Linked DNA regions of Homo sapiens. The protein of the gene in region 2 purifies or fractionates together with the protein of the main gene of each other region. This does not show direct contact. Each region holds a gene or a part of one and is shown on either strand. Other genes may lie near its edges.

Evidence for each region.
Region 1: the proteins of ATMIN (region 2) and OAS2 purify together in Homo sapiens (affinity purification with mass spectrometry; one large-scale study listed by BioGRID and IntAct). This does not show direct contact.

The regions. Positions count from the first base shown.
Region 1 is NC_000012.12:112,981,273-112,985,096, reverse strand, and holds part of OAS2 (2'-5'-oligoadenylate synthase 2), read right to left. Parts: intron 1-3,824.
Region 2 is NC_000016.10:81,042,108-81,045,931, reverse strand, and holds part of ATMIN (ATM interactor), read right to left. Parts: intron 3,652-3,824; coding exon 3,452-3,651; intron 2,772-3,451; coding exon 962-2,771; 3' UTR 1-961. UniProt on the Homo sapiens protein: Transcription factor. Plays a crucial role in cell survival and RAD51 foci formation in response to methylating DNA damage. Involved in regulating the activity of ATM in the absence of DNA damage. May play a role in stabilizing ATM.

The DNA.
Region 1 (3,824 bases), on a different chromosome or scaffold from region 2:
TCAAAGACAAACATATAATTCTGAAAATAGCAAGACAAAAGTATAAAGTCACATATAAGGGAATTCTCCTCAGACTAATAGCAGATTTCTGAGCAGAAAACTTACAGGTCAGAAGAGAATAGGATGATATGCTCAAAGTGCTAAAAAAAAACCCTTTCAGACAAGAATACGATACCCAGCAAAGCTATCCTTCAAAAATGAAGGAGAAACAAAGTCTTTCCCAGACAAGCAAAAACAGAGGGAATTCATCACCACTAGACTAGTTCTACAGAAAATGCTTAAGAGAGTGTTACATCTGGAAGCAAAGGGATGATGTCTACCATCATGAAAACACACAAAAGTATAAAACTCACTGGTAGAGCAGATACACAAATGACAAAGAGAAAGGAGTCAAATGTTATCATTACAAAACCCCCAACAATTGGAAAGGTAGGCAATAAAGAGAAAGAAAAGAACAAAGAATGTACAAAACAATCAAAACAAATAACAAAATGACAGGAGTAAGTTGTTACCTATCAATAACAACCCTGAATTTAACAACGGTTTAAATTCTCTAGTTAAAAGATACAGACAAGCTGAATGGATAAAAAATAAGGTCCAACTATATGCTGCCTCCAATAAACTCACTGCATCTGTGAAGATACATATAGACTGAATGTGAAGGAATGGAAAAAATATTCCACACAAATGGAAACCAAAAGTGTGCAGGAGTAGCTATACTTATATCAGACAGAGTAGACTTTAAGTCAAAAACATAAAAAGAGACAAAGAAGGTCATTTTATAATTAATGATCAAGAGATCAATTCAGCCAGAGGATATAAGTATGTGTATATATGTATATAGACATATATATGTATATGTATATTTATACACATATGTATGACCACCCAACGGTAGAGCACTGAGATATGTAAAGCAAATATTAGAGCTAAACAGAGACCGAGAGACTGCCAATACAGTAATAGCTGGGAACTTCATCTCACTTTTGGTATTGGGCAGATCACGTAGACAGAAAATCAGCAAAGAAATACTGGACTTAGTCTGCATTATAGTCCAAATGGACCTAATGAATATTTGCAGATTATTTATTCAGCAAAGAATACTGGACTTAGTCTGCATTATAGTCCAAATGGACCTAATGAATATTTGCAGATTATTTATTCAGCTACAGAATACACATTCTTATCAGCACAGGGAATGTTCTCCAGGATAGACCCTATGGTAGGTCACAAAACAAGGCTCAACAAATTTTTAAAAATTGAAATACTGTCAGGTATCTTAATGGATACTTACCACAATGGATACAGACCACAATGGAACAAGAGGAACTTTGGAAATTGTACAAATACGTGAAAATTAAACAACACGCTCCTGGACAACCACTGGGCTGATGAAGAAATTTAAAAGGAAATCAAAAAATTTCTGGAAACAAATGAAAATGGAAACACAACATACCAAAACCTAAGGGATACAGCAAAGTTTGAAGCAATACATGCTTACATCAAAAAAAGTAGAACAATTTCAAATAAACAACCTAACGGTTCATCTTAAGGAATTAGAAAAGCAAGAAAAGCCAGGCATAGTGGCTCACACCTGAAATTCCAGTACTTTGGGAGGCTGAGGCGGGTGGATCACCTGAGGTCAGGAGTTTGAGACCAGCCTGACCAACATGGTGAAACCCCGTCTCTACTAAAAATACAAAATTAGCCGGGCGTGGTGGTGCATGCCTGTGATCCCAACTACTCAGGAGGCTGAGGCAGGAGAATCACTTGAACCCAGGGGGCAGAGGTTGCAGTGAGCTGAGATCACGTCATTGCACTCCAGCTTGGGCAACAAAAGCAAAAATCCATCTCAAAAACAAACAAAAAAGCAAGAATAAACCAAACCTAAAATTAGTAGAAGGAAAGAAATAATAAAAATCAGAACAGAACTAAACATAATAGAGGCTAAAAATTAACAAAATAAAAAGTTGGTTTCTTAAAAAGATAAACAAAATGGATGAACCGCTACTTAGACTAAATAGACTAAAAAAAGAGAAGACCCAAGTAAAATAAAATCAGGGATAAAAAAGGAGACATTACCATTGATACCACAGAAATAAAAGGGGTCATTAGAGACTATGATGAACAACTACATGTGAACAAATTGGAAAGCCTAGAGGAGATGGATAAATTCCTGAACACATACAACCTACTAAGATTGATCCAGGAAGAAACAGAAAACCTGAACAGACCAATAGTGAGTGAGTAGATTGAATCAGTAATAAAAAACTCCTCAACAAAGAATAGCCCAGGACTAGATGGCTTTACTGCTGAACTCTACCAAACTTATAAAGAAGAATTAACACCAATTCTTCTCAAACTATTCCAAAAAAATTGAAGAGGAGGGAATTACTCCTAACCACTTCTATGAAGTCAGCATTACCCTGATACCAAAACTAGACCAAAGACACAACAAAAAAGAAAACTACAGGCCAATATCCCTGATGAACATAGATACAAATACCTTCAACAAAATGCTAGCAAACCAAATCCAATAATACTTCGAAAAGATAACACATGATCAAGTGGGATTTATCCCAGGGATGCAAGGATGGTTCAACATGAGCAAGTCAACAAATGTTGAACATTTGCACATCACATCAACATAATGAAGGACAAATCATATGATTATCCTGGTAGATGTAGAAGAACATTTGGTAAAATTCAACATCCCTTTATGCTAAAAACCCTCAACAAATTAGGCATGTAAGGAACATACCTCAACATAATAAAGTCCATATATGACAAACCCACAGTTAACATCATACTGAATTGGGAAAGGCTTTCAGCCTGTATCCTGGAAGTCCTAGCCAAAGCAATCCCAAAAGATAAAGAAATAAAAGGCATCCAAATAGGAAAAGAAAAAGTCAAATTGCCCCTCTTTGCAGACCATATGATCTTCTATACAGAAAAACCTAAAGACTCCACCAAGAAAACCTCTTAGAACTGATAAATTTGGTAAAGTTGCAGGATACAAAATCAAAATACCAAAATCAACATACCATACCAACATACCAAAATACCAACATATTCTACACATCAGTAATGAACTAGCTGAAAAAGAAATCAAGAAAGCAATCTTATAGTATTTAACAAAAATACCTAGGAATGCATTTAACTAAGGAAGTGAAAGATCTCTACAGTGAAAACTACAAAACACTGATAAAAGAAACTGAAGGTGACACAAGCAAATGGAAAGACATCCCATGCTCATGGATTGGAAGAATTAATATTGTTAAAATAACCATACTACCCAAAGCAATCTACAGAATCAATGCAATCCTTATAAATACCAGTGACATTTTTTTTCACAGAAATAGAAAAAACAATCCTAAAATTTGTATGGAAACACAAAAGATCTCAAATAGCCAAATAGTACTGAGGAAAAAGAACAAAGCTAGAGGCATCATGCTACGTGACTTCAAAATATACTACAAAGCTATAGTAACCAAAGCAGCATGGGATTGGTATAAAAACAGACATATAGACCAAAGGAACAGAATCGAGAACCCAGAAACAAATCCACAAATTTACAGCCAACTGATTGAGAAAGCACCATGAACACACATTAGGGAAAGGATACTCTCTTCAATAAATGGTGTTGGGAAAACTGGATATCCATATGTAGAAGAATGAAACTAGGCCCCCGTCTGTCATCTTATAAAAAATTAACTAAAAATGGGTTAAAGAGTTAAACATAAGGCCTGAAATGATAAAATTAATAGAATAAAGCAGAAGAGTAATGCTTCATGATATTGGTCTATGCAAGTATTTTGTGGCTA
Region 2 (3,824 bases):
ACCATGGCTCATGGCAGCCCCAATCTCCTCGAGTGATCCTCTCACCTCAGCCTTCCAAGTAGCTGGGATCACAGGCGCATGCCACTGTGCCTGGCTAATTAAAAAAAAAAAAAAATTCCAGAGACACGGTCTTCTTACGTTGCCCAAGCTGGTGTTGAACTCCTGGGCTCAAGTGATCGTCCTGCTTTGGCCTCCCAAAGTGCTGGGATTACAGGGGTAAGCCACCACACCTGGCCCGCTGCTGCTTCCCTAGCCGATAATTTTACATCAATAAACCTCTTGTGTGTAAAGTGCTGTACACTTGTATGCTGGTATCAATAGTAGTTCATGTAGCGAAGAGGTGGCAATGATTACATGAAAACTGCTTCAAAGCTAAAGACAGTTGTAGTTTTCCTTGGTGTCTTTAAATCAGAAAAGAGGTGTCAAAGCTGACGAAGGTCCAGGCAGCAGGAGTCTTAAGAGCATGGAAGCACTACTGCTTAAATCCTACGGTGGCAGCATCCGGTTTCTTTAGTGATTAGTAACAGGAATCAGGAATTTCTAACAAGCAGTGCCAAAGATATTTTAGGTGCAGTTTAAGTATATTACACTTTGACTAAAATGTTTTGAAGATTTGAGAAGTTTGTACCCTTGAACCTGGTAAGCTGGGCTTCAGCTAAATGGCTATATAGGTTTTATAGATATGAAATACATTTTTTTTTTTAACATGAAAAGACTAGCTGTGAAAAGGCAAATGTAGGCAACACAAAAACAATTTAGATCAACATCTCAAACTTTATAATACACTCACATTTATACGCAAATTTCTGTTTACAAGTACAAAAGGCAAAGAAACACAAAGAAGCTAAGCAACTGCATCATCAGCCACATTCAATCGAATTAATACTGTTGTCCCCAGTCCGTAGTTTTAATCCAGAGGAAATGGTAGATGCCATTTCACACATGGACTCCACCGTTAGTTTTAGAAGTTGGAGACTGTGTGTGGTTCCGCAGAAGTCTGGGTTTCTACAGAGCTGAACTGAGACTCCATCGTGTTCCAGGCCAGATCAGCCAGAAGAAAGTCATCCATTGCTGTCTGAGTTTCGTTGCTGGTGAAGAACAAGCTCCCCAGGGTTTCAAACCCAGAACTCATGGTCTGTGTTTCTGTACTGTTCAACTGAACTTTGCTTTCTAGAGCAGGTATATTTTTAGCAGTGGAGACTCCTTCAGTTTGGGTCTCTGTGTCAGATGAATCAGTACTCACGGAAAAGCTGGAGTGTTTCAGAATACTTCCCAGAGGCAGATGAGGGCTACTGTCTAAGAAAAAGTTTAAGTCTGTCTGTGTCTGTGTGTCAAACATCTCAAGGCCTAAGAAGTTAGAATTTCCCCTACACCCATAGGACTGAGCAGAGGTATCTGCGAGTAAGAAGTCCGTTTGAGTCTCTATGTCCAGTGACTCCAAGACTGGCTCGGTGGTCATGGTGCTAAGTTCACTCTCTTCAGTTTGAGTCTGGATATTTGAGGCCGAAAAGAACTCTTCGATATCAAAATCGATTCCGGGGTTCTGGGCTGGGCCAGATGGGAGCTGGGTGTCAGGTCCAGGATTTGTGTCAGACAAAAGACTACGATGATCCAATGTCTGAGCAGGCAGATTACTTGACAAGATGTTTTCCAAATCACTTAATAAATCTATGGTTTGGGTCTGATTATCTGTCATGTTCTGTGAAGGAAGCATACTATTCTGTGCACTGAAATTTATAATTGGTGCAGATTTCTCAATATCTTGATTTAAAGTCTTAGGCTCATTCTGAGGTAACAAACTATGAGTTACTGTCTCTGCTACTAAACTGTTGCTTATAATGTTACCTGTAGCAACATTATATGATGAATGAACACTCTCAAAAATGTCTCCGCACATTCCAGCTTGGTCCATCTGTACATGGTCATCCGTTGGACTTTCTATCCCACTGGTTTGAGTTTCTCTGGAGACCCCACCTGACTGGAAACAGGTGTCCATAAATGCATCAGTCTGAGCAGCTATAGATGAAGTTACCTTAGAGCTGGGCAAAAATGTCTGAGTGTGAACACTAATGGGAAGAGACACTTGAGAATCAAACGACAAATCAGTTTGAGAACAAGACGACACAGAGGAATCAGCAGTGGCCCACTGTGCAGAAGGTATAAAGTTTTGTGAGGCATAAGACAGATCTGTCTGCACGTTGATTGAAGAAATGCTATTCTTTTGACACGTGTTCCCTAGTTCTTGTAAAGGATTAGATGGACTTTTACCAAAGTTCACTTGAACACCAGTACTTATTGGCTCACCAGCAATAGGATTAGCAATTTTGAAAAGAGGTAGGCTCTCCTTAAGAGAGCAAGCCTCTGAATCTAGGCCGAGGATCAGGGTTCCTACTGACAAGGGCATTAAGTGCACAGCCCCTGTGGCAGAGCCCTGATCAACACCTAACACCACAGGCTGGGCTGAGGAGTCGGCTGTAGGCACAAAGACAGGCATGACAGAAAACTGCATCACGGGTAGTTTAACCAAAGCCACTTTGGGCTTTGGTAAAAGCAACTTCTGAGGATATCTCGGTGGTGTTGTAAGAGTCTGCTTGTCAGTGTTAGAGCCACAAGAGTCTTCAAAAGATGGTTCTAGCTTTATTTCTGAAGCTTCTAGTTCTTGAGTGTCTGGTCTAGGGATTGGTTGGTTGTTCAATGATTCAATGGTCTTGTTGGATAACTTCTGGTTTTGTGCACAGTTTTCCATTTTCCTTTTCTTACTAGGTGGGTCCCTGAAAACAATGACAGAGCAAAAAGAAAACCTTAAAATACAACTTTCTTCGACCATGACACTCTATCCTCACTTACAAATGCCATTTCCCCCATCTATAGCAGAGGTCATGTTCAACCCAGACAAGATAAATCCATTCTTTCGCAACTCTGGGAGTTGGTCCTATTATAGCAGGTGAACTTTGAGAAACATGCAAACAGAGAAGGAGGAAACATACCTTTTGTTAAGCTCTAAGTACTAGAACTCAACTCAGATCTTTAAGCCAAAAGAAGCTAAAAGACTTACATAATGCAAGTTTTATCATTTCTAAGGCAGGAAGCTATCACACTAAATGAAAATTTGACCTTTAAATGAAGTACAGTTTCATGATAAAACTTATTTGTTGGCAGTTTGGTTCCCTCTGATAGAAAATTCTGGAAGCTGAGATTTTCAAATGGAAATAACAAGGGACTCTCAAAGAGGGCTGGCAGAAAAAAATAGGGGGAACAATTGGGTCAAGATTTCAGGCCCAGACATGTGTCATTTGCAAGACCTGCTTCCATTTTCAAAAGCTTCCTTCTTCCACGTCACACATTTTCTAAGATTCCTTTTTCCTCCCCACACCACTGGCTCTCCAGGATGTTTCATCTGAAATGCTTCCCATAGCTACTGACTTCTGTGCCATCATTTCTTTCCCTTCACCTGTGTTCTGCAGGTATCTCGTGCCCAGTTCGGTAGATGTGAGACTGCAGTGCTGTTCTACTGGCGTAGGGACAGCCGCATGTGCACCGGAAGGTCTTGCCACAGTCCTCTGCATGTCTTTTCAGGTCCCATTCTGTACCGTACGAATTGCTGCACTTACTACATTTGTGCTTCTTCTCAGCATGCATTTTCATAAAGTGCTAGGAGGAACGCAGAAGGGACTAAGGTGAAAAACAGCAACTGGTCAAAACATTTCAGAAACCATCATACACCCAAATTAATAATGATTTTACACTATTAATATAAATAACATAAAATACAGCAGTCCAAGTCAAAAGAATGTAAAAGCAGGAACATCGCAGTTAATTATATA